4 separate regions of the Homo sapiens genome follow, and regions 1, 2 and 4 are each reported to be linked to region 3. Evidence: microRNA targets listed by miRTarBase, many of them from high-throughput screens and not tested one by one. Region 3 holds a microRNA gene; each other region holds the end of a gene's coding sequence.
What was found. Region 3 holds the annotated microRNA hsa-miR-593-3p (UGUCUCUGCUGGGGUUUCU, at 2,454-2,472, opposite strand). A microRNA usually pairs through its seed, bases 2 to 8, with sites in the 3' UTR of a target mRNA and lowers its output. Matches are read on the target gene's strand: a 7mer-m8 pairs with bases 2 to 8, a 7mer-A1 pairs with bases 2 to 7 and ends in A, and an 8mer does both.

Region 1 (4,000 bases), not on the chromosome of region 3:
AAATGTAAACGTCATGTGACAGATCTAACAGGGCAAGTGGTACAGGAGGGAACCAGGCGCTACAGACTGTGTAATGAGTGTCTTGCAGAATTTGGCATAGACAGCCTCCCCATTGACTTGGAAGCTGAACAACATCTTATGTCCCCATCAGATGGAGATAAGGATTCCAGATGGCACTTGAGTGAAGATGAGAATAGATCCTATGTGGAGATTGTAGAAGATGGGTCTGCTGATCTGGTCATCCAACAGGTTGATGATAGTGAAGAAGAAGAAGAAAAAGAAATTAAGCCCAACATTAGGTAGCTGTAATGTGAACCAACAGAGCTGGCATGTCTGCAATTTACATTGACTTCCTGTATCTCTCTCTTTCTATGGTCGGAGTCTAGTTAACAAATTTATCACACTGACTTTAAAGAAATGATCTGATATAACTTGCATGCTTTCTGAACAGGCCATTGTATCCATTCTGAACTTTGTTGCCCTAAAATGTGTTGCTGCACTGGAAAGAAAGAACTAGCTTGAGTTGGCTTGATGGATGAACAATTATCCTCTTACTTTCATTACAATCCTCTTACTTTATTCCAGAGATACCTTTTTCTTTTAATATTGGAGGATCTACTTAGCAAACTTTTTTCAAAGAAAATACTTTAAATAAATTCACCACAACCAAACTTTATGTAAGACAATTTCAAGGTGTTTCAAAAACACATAACTACCAATGTTTAATTTCACAGGGAACCAGTTAAGAGCACATTTAAGGATCTGGCAACCCACCTTACTAAACAAATTAGTCTTTCTATTAATTTGAGATCTGAAACAACCTGTCATTACTCTGATATCCTGAACGTTTAAGGATTATGGAAGAAGACTAAAGTGTTTGAAATCATTCATATTTGAAATTTTTATCATTAGCTTAAAAATTACTCTCAGTATTGTTAAAAAAAAAAAAAAGTAGAGGCTGGCCAAAGATTATATACAGATATTTTCTTAAAGCAGGAAACTAATGTTGCCTAAAAGTCAAGGTAGTTTGTGAAGACAATCTGTCAATATGGTTGTCCATCTCTCTAAAGAAAAGCAGGCTGGGCGCTGTGGCTCATGCCTATAATCCCAATACTTTGGGAGGCCGAGGCAGGCGGATCACAAGGTCAGGAGTTTGAAACCAGCCTGGCCAACATGGTGAAACCTCGTCTCTACTAAAAAATACAAAATTAGCCGGGCATGGTGGCGGGTGCCTATAATCCCAGCTACTCGGGAGGCTGAGGCAGGAGAATCGATTGAACCTGGAAGGCAGAAGTTGCAGTGAGCCGAGATCACACCATTGCACTCCAGCCTGGGCAACAAGAGCGAAACTCCGTCTCAAAAAAAAAAGGAAAACAAACTAGGAGGTTCTTACCATATGTGAGTGATTTCTAACGTTTATGTAGTGCTATATTATTTATAAAGTACTCTCTCATGTATTTTCTCAGTGAGGTGGATACTATCTCCGATTTACAAATGAGGAAATTAAGGTCAGAAAGTCTGAGAGAGAAAACTGATGATTGGACAGGATCTGATTTTAAACAATCCTCTTTCAGCCTTCTCTCCCTGTATGTCTCCTGAAATGGCAAAGAATAGAAGTCAAACCTCACCAGTTGGCAGTCATTATAAAAATAAGCCAATCAGAATTAGAAAGTATGAAAGGAGGAATTGAATCATTTTCAACAACATACAATATCTTGATCTAGAGATTTTCAAATAATGCTAAGTAATGTCCCTACAGTACCTATTGGTATGTTTTTATGTCACGTTATTTATATGTAAATTTAAAGTATAAAACTATTTGAACAAATTATTCACTTAAATATGTTGAACATTTTTGCTTCTCTTGTTTATATAATATTTTCAAAACAAACTTTTCTCCTAGTATACAAAGTTTAAACTTCTCCCCTTTGGGCTGGGCCCAGTGGCTCACGCCTGTAATCCCAGCACTTTGGGAGGCTGAGGCAGGTGGATCACCGAGGTCGGGAGTTTGAGACCAGCCTGACCAACATGGAGAAACCCCGTCTCTACTAAAAATACAAAATTAGCCGGGCGTGGTGGTGCATGCCTGTAATCCCAGCTACTCAGAAGGCTGAGGCAGGAGGATAGCTTGAACCCAGGAGGCAGAGGCTGCGGTGGGCTGAGGTTGCGCCATTGCACTCCAGCCTGGGCAACAAGAGCGAAACTCCGTCTCAAAAAAAAAAAAAAAAAAAACTTCTCCCCTGCATAAATTATGAAACATTCCAAAATTACAGCTAAATTAGAGAAGCATTGTTTCAGTTCTAAAGGTAAAATCTAAATATCCGAAGTAAAGAACTGAGCTTCATAAAGGTCTCTTCTGCAAGTTATCACAGTGAAGCTTGATAGAATTTCACTGTATATGGAGAGGCTCCATCTATTTTACTGTTTTCTTTTTTGTTTTTGTTTTTTTTTCGAGACGGAGTCTCGCTCTGTCGCCCAGGCTGGAGTGCAGTGGTGCAATCTCAGCTCACTGCAAGCTCCACCTCCCGGGTTCTCGCCATTCTCCTGCCTCAGCCTCCCGAGTAGCTGGGACTTACAGGCGCCCACCACCACTCCCAGCTAATTTTTTGTATTTTTAATAGAGATGGGGTTTCACCGTGTTAGCCAGGATGGTCTCAATCTCCTGATCTCGTGATCCGCCCCCCTCGGCCTCCCAAAGTGCTGGGATTACAGGCGTGAGCCACTGCGCCCAGCCAATTTTACTGTATTTTTAAATGCCATGACATACCTCAAAATTATCCTTTTTATGTTACTATTTTCTCTTGTTCTTTCATTAATTATTGTCCTTGATACCAATTTCTAGGCTAAATTGGTTACTTTCTTTTAAAAAATTTAAAAATAGATGAATAACCACTTGTTTCATGGTACTTAATTGAGACTTTTTCAAGATTCCCCTGATGGCACATTTGCAGTTGCTTCAAGACTGGATGATGTGCATTGAGTTCTCTGTTCTCCCAACATGGCTGTTCCTAAATCAGGATTCTGGTTTTTTTGAGATGGACTCTCGCTCTGTTGTCCAAGCTGGAGTGCAGTGGCGTGATCTCGCTCACCACAACCTCTGCCTCCCGGGTTCAAGCGATTCTCCTGCCTCAGCCTCCTGAGTAGCCGGGACTACAGGCATGTGCCACCATGCCTGGCTAATTTTTGTATTTTTAGTAGAGACAGGGTTTCGCTATGTTGGCCAGGCTGGTCTCGAACTCCTGACCTCGTGATCTGCCCGCCTCAGCCTCCCAAAGTGCTGGGATTACAGGCGTGAGCCAGCACGCCCGGCCTAAATCAGGATTCTTAACAATTAAAGTGTATCTGAATGAGGAAGGAAACGCTTGTCATTCTCTAGTCTTACCCAATTAATACTGACACCTTTTGAAATTAAAACCTGATTTTTTAGTTGTTGGAGCCAGTAGGAAAAATGGCTGATTTGAACTTTTTTCCTATAAATGAAGTAGTGCTTGCATGTGTGTACTCTAATGCACTTTAGTCTATGATCTAAATGTCCTTTTATGCTATTATCTTCTGCATGCAAACTTTACATACATCAGCATGAATATCCAACATTCACTGAACACAGTGCCACCAGCACTTGTAATTGCCTTTTCAGAAATAATGCTTTCTCATAATTGTTTATAACGAGCATCAAACTATCCCCACAAAATGATCAAGTTCACCAAACTAGACAAAGAATCTGTTGTATCATTTTAACATCATAGAAGAACATTTAAGACATGTTTGTAAGTTGTAAATAATGACTCCAGTTATAGCATATATATCTAAGACGTTAGAGACCAGTTATTTTCTAGAGTGAAACTGTCTATTGATGATTGAGAAAATTGAATTCTTTGGTTTTTACATGTGGGCAAATGTTACATAGGGGTATAATCTGTTTAAATAAGCTTTATTTATGCCAAGGATTTTTTTTTTAATATCAAGACTTGGTTAGACCAAAGTTTGCTCTTGCAGGAAT
Region 2 (4,000 bases), not on the chromosome of region 3:
CATAGTCAAGGACTCAAGTCAGAGACTGTTAGAGAAAACCTGCTCTGTTGATTCTCTGAGTAGTAAAAAGGTTGCTGCACTGCACAGCTCCAGGGAACATTTAAATATAGACCCTGCGGTTGTGCAATTTTGTGGTTCTGAATAGTGGATCCATACTTCCAACTGGCTTTTGACATTATACCACCCATTATCACTCTCAGGGAGGCTAGATTTAAAGATGGACTTCTTTGCCCAATAGTGCACTCCCTGCACTTTGGGAGTGCATAAACATAGGTAGGTAAAGAATTGTTAACTCTTCATATCTGAATAATTTTTTTTCACGTTTTCATTTCTTAGGTCCAGTTTGTTATTGTCGCCATCCACATAAGCCAGTTCTTTTTCATGGAGGATTGCAAGTATCAGTTTCCAGTCTTTGCGTGCATCATTATGAGTTACAGTTTCATGTTTCTGCTGCTCTTTCTCCATTTTTGGTACCGTGCTTACACCAAAGGTCAGAGGTTGCCCAAAACTGTGAAAAATGGAACTTGCAAAAACAAAGATAATTGAAGCCCAACATAAGTCTATGATCGAAACTGATACATTGTCTTCCTTGACAATCAAGAGATATTTACCTATGCAGTGCATTTTGTATATTTTTCAAAACTAAGAGCTTGTATTTTTATGGTAAGTTATTGGGATGTCTGATATTTGAGAGCCCGAAGCTTCCAGATAACAGTCTTCTGATAATTAGAGCCTACAGCAGCCAGAATTTGTTTTTGTTTTTGTTTTTGTTTTTTTAGCTGCTTTTAAACCTAATCCAAAGGTTTTGTTTAAAACATTTTGTTGCAGTGAAAAAAAGATATGAAGCAATACAGTACTCTTCAAAGAAGTCCAATAAAGATGAAAAATATCATTAGGTATTTTGAGCACAGACGGAGATCCATGTGATAAAATAGATTCCTTCTGCTGGGTCTGGAAAGTCTGGAAACCACCTGTAGGCCCTGGCTTTGTCATTTATTGACTGTATTCAGAAGATACTATATTTGCTCTAGAGTTAACTCCCATTTTAGCAAGCTAGCACAGGTGAAAATTGAGTGAGTTTTTGATAACTTGTCATTTAAAATCATTAATGATAATTTTCAATGGATCTTTTCAGTAGCCATCACCAGTTTTGCTGATAAGACTTCCTCACAACCCATTTGTTGTACAAACTGTTTCAAAGTAGCAATCCTTTGGGTTAGTACACTTGATACCAAGTTTCATTCAGTTGATTATTTTCAAAACAAGGTGATTTGTTTTAATGGGTTAATGAATACTTTGCTATTACTGTTTTACAATTAACTTTGTATATCTCTGGAAAGAGGTGAATTTGTCAATGAAAAAAGTATTGTGTAGTTCAGTGGGAAAAACCTGTTGTCTGTTATAGTATCACATCACTTTCTTACATTGTCATGGTTTAAATTATTATCTTGGTGAAATATATAGGTTAGATACTTAAATGTTCATATTATTAGCACACTACAGGTACTACCCTTAAATCATAAATAATATTACCCATTGTACACAGTTTCCAGATATGAGTTAGAGTGGCTGTGAAGCAACTAGAGGCAAATTGTGGCACAGAGAATATCCAGGGGAAAATTGATTATGTAAGCAAGGGCTGTTCTACTTTGAGAGAGAGACAGACAGACTACATAATAGTAATATATTATATAATTAATGTTATAGATACACTGAACAATAAAACATTTTCTGGAATTATGAATTAATTAACAACCTGGATTTCTGTTTCCAGACCTATAAACCATGTAATGAAGGACTGAAATTCGTTTGGCATACACTTTGTTTCTTTAAAATTGCTAGTTTCTTTCTGTTATTTTTACATTTTCTTGTCAGAGAATCAAAACTATTAGTCAGTAGAGTTTTGTCCATGAAATAATATTTGGACATTTGTGAATTTTTCCCTATTTTTTTTCTTCTTTTATTTATACTCAATTTTGAAGCACTGTTTATGTTTGTAGGACTTTAAACAATTAGTACTTAAAGCCCCAGTTAATTTTGAACACACAGAGATACTTATTGTACTCTGTGTACAGTAAGTATTTTTATGTTTACACTTACCAGATTCATAAGGTTATTTGCCTTTAAGTGATCTTTTGTGATTTTACTTGATTACAGCATGAGAAGGTAAAGGTTGATAAATGGGAGTAATTACATATATATATATAATTTATTATTTTTTTTTCTGAAGCAGAGTTTTACTCTTGTTGCCCAGGCTAGAGTGCAATGGCACAATCTCGGTTCACTGCAACCTCTGCCTCCCAGGTTCAAGTGATTCTCCTGTCTCAGCCTCCCAAGTAGCTGGGATTACAGGTGCCCGCCACCATGCTCAGCTAATTTTTGTATTTTTAGTAGAGACAGGGTTGGCCAGGCTGGTCTCGAGCTCCTGACCTCAGGTGATCCTCCCACCTCGGCCTCCCAAAGTTCTGGGATTACAGGGGTGAGCCACTGTGCCCGGCCATAATTTTATATTTTTAGAAAATAAAGAATGAAGGACAAAAGAGCACAGCTAAATGAAACTGCTGCTCTAATTTATTCCACTGGAAAGGTCTCAGGACTCCTTAACTGTTTTCCAGGTTTGGCTCTTCATATCTAACCTGTGCTAAAATGAGAAGGTATGCTAGGTGCTGTTAGAAATCACACCATTTCCAAAGAACCCAAGTAGTATAGAGACCAAAATGAGGCAAAAATAAAAGAGATGAAACAGGAGAGTTTATTTCTTGCATACTTTCCGACCTTCATCATACAACCTCTCCTAACCTCCCTGTAGTCTTTAAAATGTTTAACTTGCCTATAAGCTAACATGTAATAAAACACATACTCAATTATATGAATAGAAGTGGAGAGCCAGAATGCTACAAAAGAAATCACAGCTGCTAGAAGTATCCTCCATAGAAACATCAACATGATTGTGGATCAAAATGATTTTCACTGGATATGGAATTTGTATGGGCCATATTTATTAAAAGAGTTCTGTGTGGTCACATAGAGTTCCTTTGGGATTTCATCCCACTTTTCAGGACTTAATTTGTTTGGGTTTGCTTACCTAACAAGCAACAACAACAACAAAATAAATAGTTCCAAAATCTAGTTTATTACATAAATCTCTATGAATCCTTGAGGGCCTATATCTATATTATAAATAAATACAAATATAGATTTTTAAATATCTATGGGACTTTGCCATTTACAGCCTTAAGTATAAAATTACGAGATTATATTCTTTCCATTACCCTTTATTTCTGCTAACTTTTTAAAGACTGGAACATTCTGTGGATGTTGTCAAAGTTTGAGTTTGTTTTTCCCTGTGTATTATAATAAATTTGTGGTATTGCATGTATACGTGTGTATATTTTTCATTTTGGAATCTAGCTGCATGTATTTGCATGGGTTGGTGACTTTTAATTTGAATACTCACCAATCAAAGTTATTTTACATATTTCTTGTATACGTGCTGTGTTCATCTTTGGGATACAAAGATACTTAGAACATAATTGGGATCTCCTGGAGCTTACCAACTGGCAGATGAAATTATGTGACAGGGCAGTAGATGATAGGTGCCAGATGAGTGACAGTTCTGCCACTTAGCAGACAGGGAAGACTCTATGAAGGAATTTGAATTTGAGTTATGTGTTTAGGTTGTACAGAATTTCAAAATTGGTGGTATGTTAGTAGGCAAGGTTTTTTAAGTGGAAAGAATTAACAAAAAAGAATATTTTGCCATCCCCACTGTCTCTAATAAATGGGACTAGCTAATGATCACTGGTTGCTAAAACAATTAGATGAAAGGTTGATGGGGATGGCTTGTGCTGATATGACTGAACCCAGTGATCAATCTTAATATCATTCAAAGTGGGACAACCAGATGTTTTGTCTCATAATACACTATAATACTCTGAGGTATTCGTGGCAAAAAAATTTTTGAACTTGAATCTAATAAATCCTCTGTATCTAAACTACT
Region 3 (4,000 bases):
GATTAAGGAGGTGGAGAAAGAAAGTAGACAGGGAGCAAGGACAATCCAAACAGCCTCCTCCAGGGTGAGAGCTGGCCAGCCCGTACCCCATTCCTGCAAGGCCAGCTCCTGGCCTGGGCCACAGAGGTGGTAACTGACAGAAGCCACTGTCTACTGTCTTTCAGGGGGCAAAAGTAGGGATGAAGGATGGGCCCCACACCACCGTGGAAAAGGCCCCAGAATTGAAGCCATGGAAGGTGGGGGAGGAATTCTTGGATCAGGGCCTAGAGCCTCAGTATTATTCAAACTTGGCCCCTCTGACCCTTGTCACCCTGCAAGATACATGCTGAACAGGACTTCCAGTGCTGCTGGGCTGGGGCTGTACTGTCCCACCCTGCTACTCAGGGCCCCTGCGCCACAGGAGGAGGGATTCCCTGCCTTGTCTTTCCCTAAGCACTCTGACCTTGGGTCAGTGGTCCTGCTGCTTATTTGCTGCTTTTGCCTGTTTTAGCAACACCCAGGGCCTACTCAGTTTCTCTCCCTGGCTCCTTGTAGAATTCTCCCACCCTGACTCTGGGAGGCATCAGTCCCTTCTGGCCCTGATTCTAGCTCAGTCTCAGACCTTTTTTGCCCCTTGCGTCTCAGAAGCAAGGAGGGTGACTGTGGATCTGTGGTCTAAGTGTGGGGCTCCTCTCTTTATCTTCAGGCCCAAGGCAGTGCTGTAAGGAGGGCGCAACATATGTCTGTTGTTACACTTGCCACAGTCAGCCTTATAAGTTCCCTGCTACTATACTGTGAGCTCCTTCAGGGCATAGAGCATAGCTCACTTCTTTCTGTTTACTTGCACAAAGCCTGGTAGAATCCCCAATGCATGCAGGGTGCTTAATAATTCAGCTGCATTGAAAATAAACTGCATAAGCATGCAGGGATGTATGTCCACTCTTAAGCTGCTGCAGAGGCCACTGGTCCTGCATCCACACGACAGAGGCCTGAAGGTAGCAGCCGCCCCTCTCCCTACCCAGTGGTCAGCCCTCTATAATTCTCTTTAGACAGTGCTCCTTGCCATAGACAGTGAAATTCCAGGGATTAAGAAGCCTTGACAGACAGCTTCCTCCCTAACTTGGTCTACTTTCATTTTTTTTGCTCCAAGGCAACAGAAGCAGGACTTTGTCTCCTGCCAACAGGCAAAGCCCTCTGGGAGGTCCTTACAGAGCCTCACTGGTCATTTGCAGCTAATGGCAATGTTTTCGTCAGATCCCTCTTGAAGACAGACTCTAATTGAAAGAAGGGAGACAGGGTGAGAGGATGCCACCCAAGAGGGGATGAAAGGTTTCAGCAGAGAGGGGGCTGTGGATCCTGAGGTTCATCTCCATGGATACCATGGAGCCACCAGAGGGCAGGGGCCTTCCTCTCTGGAGCCCACCACAAATCCCCAGGTGGCCTGCCAGGAAGGGCCTCACTCCCTTCTCTTCCAGCATTCTAAGGACACATGGTTTTCTCTTTTCTCTTGTTTTCTGCCTCAGATTTCTGCTCTCTAAGACTTCAGGGGCTTGTTCTGAGTCAAGGCGGGTCCTCCCCAGCAGGACCCAGAGGCTGAGTAGAGCCTGCCTGGGAGTGATCGCATCCTTTTGCTCAAGTTCTCTGGTGGGCTGGCGGGGATTTTGGGGTGGTGGATTCCAGCTGGTTCCTCTGCCCAGGAACGGCTCTTGTTCCCACTGAGACCACCACTACAAGACTCCTTCCCTGTCACATGACCCAGCCCTAAAGGCTGGCCACCGCCCCGGTTCATTCAGGCAACTGCTGGAGCAGCTTTCAGCAGGACTGTGGCTGACCTCAAGAGAACCTAATCCCGCAGGCTCGTGGGCTCCATCTCTACCCCTCCCCCTTGCGTTTTTCCTTTTTCAAGCACAGCCAGCCCAGGGCCAGGAATGGTCAAGTTTTTCCTGGTGAAATGACACTGCCACAAAGGCAGCTGCCTGGGAAACAGCATTAGAGGGAAGTGGCTGAGACGGGGCTGGAGCGGACCTGGGGTGGGCTGAGGAGGCTGGGCAGAGCTGTGTCCTGCCATCTGGGGGACTGCCCAAGTGCTGCTGACACTTCTAGCCCCCTCTGTCCACCTGTGCCTACCATGATTTGTTTCCTGGGATCCAGAAGCAGCTCTAAGAGCTTTTCCTTCCGCTCCAAACTCAACTGTTTCCCTGCACAGGGTGGCCATGAGAAAAGGGAGGTCAGGGTGGAAAGCGTAAGCGGTTGGAGGTGTAGTCGGGCTAGCGGCTGCCAGAGCTCTCTCCTGCCCTTTGGCCTCCAGAAACCCCAGGTCTCTGCCCAGGGGACCCTGGCCACAGTGCACACCACTCAGGACGGAAGGAGGAGAAGGTCCTTCAGAGACTGCCCGGGGATGTCTTCCCCTAGAGCGCTGCCTGTTTCCATGGAAACTGGCTATCACTCAGGGCTATGTTAACCTCTAGAGAAGGAGAAACCCCAGCAGAGACAAACCCAGCACCACTCCTTGCTCCCCCAGAGGGAAACGGGCTGAGCAATGCCTGGCTGGTGCCTGACAGATTCTGGGGGCTACAAATCATCCTGCCCAGCATAGCCAGGGGTATGTAGGAACAAACAATCACCTAAGAGACTCAGAGCTCCACCCAGATAAACCTGGTTATCTCACCTGCGTCCAGAGGACCTGTCCGGCAGCACCTCCATGCCTGAGCCCAAGCCAGGGCTCATGTGAAGGCTCCTGAAGTAACTCCAAGCCCAGAGGAGCAGTGGGACAAGGCAGGGAGACAGGGGCGGCAACGTGAGCTCTTCAGGGGAGGCTCCTGGACTGCCTAGGCATTGTTCCTCCCACCCACTGGGCAGAGGCCCCCTACCCCCAGGCAGCGCCAGCTGGACCAAGCCAGGAACCACGAGCCAGCGGCCTGAGCACTCACCGGTCTCCACATCCTGCACGTAGAAGTGCAGGTCATCAGTGATCTCAGTCACAAACACGGGCTTGTAGCTAGCAGATCGCTCCTTCTCCTCCAGCACTGGCATCACCTCCTCCACGGGCTGCTCCTCATAGTGGGCCCAGACCTGCATGTTCAGTCGGCAGAGGTGAGAAGAGGGCGAGGAAGTGAAGTCATAAAAGACACTGGGAGGCCAGGCGTGGTGGCTCATGCCTGTAATCCCAGCACTTTGGGAGGCCGAGGCGGGTGGATCACGAGGTTAGGAGTTCAAGACCAGACTGGCCAATATGGTGAAACTCTATCTCTACTAAAAATACAAAAAATTAGCTGGGTGCGGTGGTGGGCGCCTGTAATCCCAGCTACTTGGGAGGCTGAGGCAGGAGAATCGCTTGAACCTGGGAGGCACGGGTTGCGGTGAGCCAAGATCATGCCACTGCACTCCAGCCTGGGCGACAGTGCAAGACTCCGTCTCAAAAAAGAAGAAAAAAAAAAGACACTGGGAAAGGGGTTTTGGGCAAATGGGATCGGCCCTGGGCGAGTGACTGTGGGGCACTCGATTCACACCAGGCTGAGCCCCTGAAGCCCTCTATCTCGGAGGGGAAAGGTGAGTTCTCTAAAGTCCTGATCTAGCAGTTCTCAAATTCTGGCAGGCATCAGAACCAACAAGGGAATTTATTAAAAATGCAGGCCCCAGATCCTACCCCAGGCCTACCAAATTACAATCTGTTCTGAGCATCCCAGAGAGTAAAAAAGAGCAAAACCAGATCCCAGGCTATCTCATGCACGTCCGAGTGTGAGAGCCCTGCTTTCATGAACTCTTTGGCTCTGGGCTCCTCACACCCGCACCTCTCTTGCTCCAGCTCCCCATCTCCCTTCCCCGTGGCACTCTGCAGGGCACTCTGAATTCTGCAGGACCTCCTGCTGTCACAGGGCTCCTGGTGCTCCTGAAGCAGTCCAAGCCACAGCCCTAGGCTGGGGAAGAGCTCACCAAGAATGCTTCTGCTCAGCAACTTTCCCTTTCTCCATCCTCCTCACCTCCAGCAGGTTGCTCTGACCTCAGCCCAGAAGCTGGGCCA
Region 4 (4,000 bases), not on the chromosome of region 3:
TCCTTTCCCTATCCTCCCCTTCATTTCTGCATCTCTCTAGGAAATATATAAAGCCCCTTTCCTACATTACTGTATAGGTTTTCGGGAATATCTACAGAAGCCTGTTCAAAGATTTTATTGAAAAGAGGAAGAAATAGGGTATTCAGATAAGTTTTTGCAAACCCAGACTCAGGTTTCTTAAATGATTAAAGGCTATAAGCAATGTGACTTTTAAGCAGCGTTTGTTCTCCCTTGTTTCCTACCAGTTATATGAAGCCTACAGTAAAGTCTGTCGCAAACAGCAGGTGGCGGCTGTGGACCAGTCAGAGTGTTTGTCACTTTCAGGGCTCTTGGAAGCCAGGGGCATTTTAGGATTAAAGAGAAACAAGGAAACCCGTTTGACAAAGGTACAACTGCTTTTTTGTGACAGTGTTTTTAATTGTCCTATTTTGTAGAGTGATGCTAAAGTAAAGGTTTATTGTTAAACAAGATGACCACAGTTAGTTAAACAAGTCGTTTTTTGTTAGGTAAGGTTTAAGGTGTGTAAAGATGGGAGTGTGATATGAATATTTTTTCAAGCCATTGGAAAAAAAAGTGTTTAACTTGCTTGCCTTTTGTGAGAAAAAGTTTAATATGGTAGAAGTTTGTATACTGACAACTTTGCTTTTGTGAGTTCCCCAGTGTGAAAAATCCTTTTCTCTTCTTTCCAGGTGTTTTTCAAGATTGAAGAGAAAGAAATAGAACATGCTCTGAAAGATAAAGCTTTAATTGGAAATATCTTAGCTACTGGATTGCCTTAAATTCTTCTCTTACACCCCACCCGAAAGTATTCAGCTGGCATTTAGAGAGCTACAGTCTTCATTTTAGTGCTTTACACATTCGGGCCTGAAAACAAATATGACCTTTTTTACTTGAAGCCAATGAATTTTAATCTATAGATTCTTTAATATTAGCACAGAATAATATCTTTGGGTCTTACTATTTTTACCCATAAAAGTGACCAGGTAGACCCTTTTTAATTACATTCACTACTTCTACCACTTGTGTATCTCTAGCCAATGTGCTTGCAAGTGTACAGATCTGTGTAGAGGAATGTGTGTATATTTACCTCTTCGTTTGCTCAAACATGAGTGGGTATTTTTTTGTTTGTTTTTTTTGTTGTTGTTGTTTTTGAGGCGCGTCTCACCCTGTTGCCCAGGCTGGAGTGCAATGGCGCGTTCTCTGCTCACTACAGCACCCGCTTCCCAGGTTGAAGTGATTCTCTTGCCTCAGCCTCCCGAGTAGCTGGGATTACAGGTGCCCACCACCGCGCCCAGCTAATTTTTTAATTTTTAGTAGAGACAGGGTTTTACCATGTTGGCCAGGCTGGTCTTGAACTCCTGACCCTCAAGTGATCTGCCCACCTTGGCCTCCCTAAGTGCTGGGATTATAGGCGTGAGCCACCATGCTCAGCCATTAAGGTATTTTGTTAAGAACTTTAAGTTTAGGGTAAGAAGAATGAAAATGATCCAGAAAAATGCAAGCAAGTCCACATGGAGATTTGGAGGACACTGGTTAAAGAATTTATTTCTTTGTATAGTATACTATGTTCATGGTGCAGATACTACAACATTGTGGCATTTTAGACTCGTTGAGTTTCTTGGGCACTCCCAAGGGCGTTGGGGTCATAAGGAGACTATAACTCTACAGATTGTGAATATATTTATTTTCAAGTTGCATTCTTTGTCTTTTTAAGCAATCAGATTTCAAGAGAGCTCAAGCTTTCAGAAGTCAATGTGAAAATTCCTTCCTAGGCTGTCCCACAGTCTTTGCTGCCCTTAGATGAAGCCACTTGTTTCAAGATGACTACTTTGGGGTTGGGTTTTCATCTAAACACATTTTTCCAGTCTTATTAGATAAATTAGTCCATATGGTTGGTTAATCAAGAGCCTTCTGGGTTTGGTTTGGTGGCATTAAATGGCAATTTGTGACTGAGACACCAGAGGGCACCCTTATAACATTGACTACTTTGAAAGGGGATGCTTGAGGCTGAGGTAGTTTTGAGGGAAAGGGGGAAGTTCTAGTTTGATTTGTTTGGGAGATTGCTGTCCTTTCATAACTGAAGCAAATGCTTGAAATGTAAACCATGTGTGATACGAATGATCTGAGAGCCAGTGACCAAGTCTGCTTTTCCCTGAGCTCTCCTGCTGCCGCCTCTACCTTTCTGACATGGCCTTCCATTTGGAACTTGATATGTGTACAAGTGATCTGTTGGCCACTGTTTCATTCATCCTGACCACTGTATCCGTGTAATGTGATCTGAGCTACAACAGGTGGTATGGGATAGAGGCAAGGAAAGCAGAGAGAGCCCTCTGAAATGAACACTACCCACTGGTGTGTGTAGCACATGATAGTCTGTAGGCATGAGTCTGAATGTTGTTCTCACACTCCTTTACTAGAGTATTCGTTCCCTCTGAAGGTAGTTTGAACATGGAAACACAGTTCTATACCTAGAAGGTTGGAAAGTGTCTGGGACTATAAGGGTTAACATGCATAATTGCAAAGATTGTCCGAAGGCTGATGGAAAGCAGAGACTGAATGGGATTGAGAACAGATGCGAAGCTTGATTTAAATTACATTTTATTGGATGCTGCAGCCTTAAGAGACGTGACTGCTTTACAGTTTGTTTCCACACTGTGGGCAGCTGCTGTCTGTTCTGTGTCCACAGTAGGATCCTGCCCAATAAGGAGCAGCCTCCCCACCTCATTGTGTTTGAGGCTTGGCGCCTTCCTCTTAACTGTAGGGCTTGAGTCAGGAACATGGCTTGACTCGCAGTGGGGCTGCTATGTATCCTCCCTGGCTTCCAGCCAAAATCACATTGGTAGATTCAAAGGGGCCAAATTTCTTTCCCCTCTATCTTTCCCTTTCCCCTGGTTTTGGAAATAGAGTTTTCTGTCTACTGATTTGTTAGTTTCCTTTTCTTCTCCCCTCACTGTCAATTTCTAGGTCATTGCTGCTCTTAAGACTTTAGCAGTTGGAACAGGGTTGGTTCTGTCAATGATGCATGAAGCAGACTTAGTGTCCCTGCTTGGCTTCTGCTGCCCTTGTGGGAGCAAAAGCTGATATATGTTTGTCAGTAAAGTCTTAAGTGTAATTCAGACTGCTGAGGAAGAAAGCCCTTTCCTTGCTGGCTTTTCTCCCTGAAGCTGAGAGCTTCAGGAAGGTGGTAGGAGTTTTAGTGGGATGGGATGGGATGGGCTTGTGGTTAGCAGTTTTTGCCAGGATCATAGGCTGCTTCACTTAGAGTAGTGGCAAAGATGCTGACCTACATTCTTCCTTTTGAAGGTGATGGAGTGTGTGTCTATATCCTGGTTTATCTCTCTCCCCCACCCCAAGGAAGCTGATTAAGCTTCCATAGAGTGTTGGGTGTTGCCATGGAAAGAGCATAGACAAAATAAATTGTGTGTTTCAACCCCAGAGCTGCCACAGATGTTTCTGGCTCAATGGAGACTTGCCTGTGGCTAGCTAACTCTGCAAGAATGTGTGAGGTCCAGGCTGGGGGTGGTGGCTCACGCCTGTAATCCAGCACTTTGGGAGGCCGAGGCGGGCGGATCACCTGAGGTCAGGAGTTTGAGACCAGTCTGGCCAACATGGCGAAACCCTGTCTCTACTAAAATAAATTAGCCAGGCATTGTGGTGTGTTCCTGTAATTCCAGCTACTGGGAGGCTGAGGCAGGAGAATCGCTTCAACCTGGGAGGCAGAGGTTGCAGTGAGCCGAGATCGTGCCATTGCACTCCAGCTTGGGCAGCAGAATGAGACTGTCTCAAAAAGGAAAAAAAAAAATGCTGGGTGTGATGGCTCATGCCTGTAATCCCAGCACTTTGTGGGGCCAAGGCGGGCTGATCACTTAAGGGTCAGGAGTGCAAGACCAGTCTGGCCAACATGGCGAAACCCTGTCTCTACTAAAAGTACAAAAATTCACTGGGTGCCATGGTACACACCTATAATCACAGCTACTTGGGAGGCTGAGACAGGAGAATT

Region 1: the mRNA of ZBTB8A is a reported target of hsa-miR-593-3p. Seed matches in the 3' UTR shown: 7mer-A1 at 3,197-3,203.
Region 2: miRTarBase lists ELOVL7 as a target of hsa-miR-593-3p. Seed matches in the 3' UTR shown: 7mer-A1 at 1,657-1,663 and 7mer-A1 at 2,393-2,399.
Region 4: miRTarBase lists CDC6 as a target of hsa-miR-593-3p. Seed matches in the 3' UTR shown: 7mer-A1 at 1,316-1,322 and 7mer-m8 at 2,547-2,553.

What each region holds. Positions count from the first base shown.
Region 1 is chr1:32,600,117-32,604,116 of GRCh38, forward strand. It overlaps ZBTB8A (zinc finger and BTB domain containing 8A), which reads left to right. Exons shown (of 5, transcript NM_001040441.3): 5 at 1-4,000. The coding sequence ends at 303. Among named protein-coding and RNA genes, the nearest start is that of ZBTB8OS, 48 kb to the right of the region's middle.
Region 2 is chr5:60,751,170-60,755,169 of GRCh38, reverse strand. It overlaps ELOVL7 (ELOVL fatty acid elongase 7), which reads left to right. Exons shown (of 9, transcript NM_024930.3): 9 at 337-3,379. The coding sequence ends at 546. Among named protein-coding and RNA genes, the nearest start is that of DEPDC1B, 53 kb to the right of the region's middle.
Region 3 is chr7:128,080,411-128,084,410 of GRCh38, reverse strand. It overlaps MIR593 (microRNA 593), which reads right to left and starts at 2,550; the gene lies at 2,451-2,550. It overlaps SND1 (staphylococcal nuclease and tudor domain containing 1), which reads right to left. Exons shown (of 24, transcript NM_014390.4): 18 at 2,910-3,051.
Region 4 is chr17:40,301,223-40,305,222 of GRCh38, forward strand. It overlaps CDC6 (cell division cycle 6), which reads left to right. Exons shown (of 12, transcript NM_001254.4): 11 at 246-386; 12 at 690-3,435. The coding sequence ends at 779. Among named protein-coding and RNA genes, the nearest start is that of RARA, 6.0 kb to the right of the region's middle.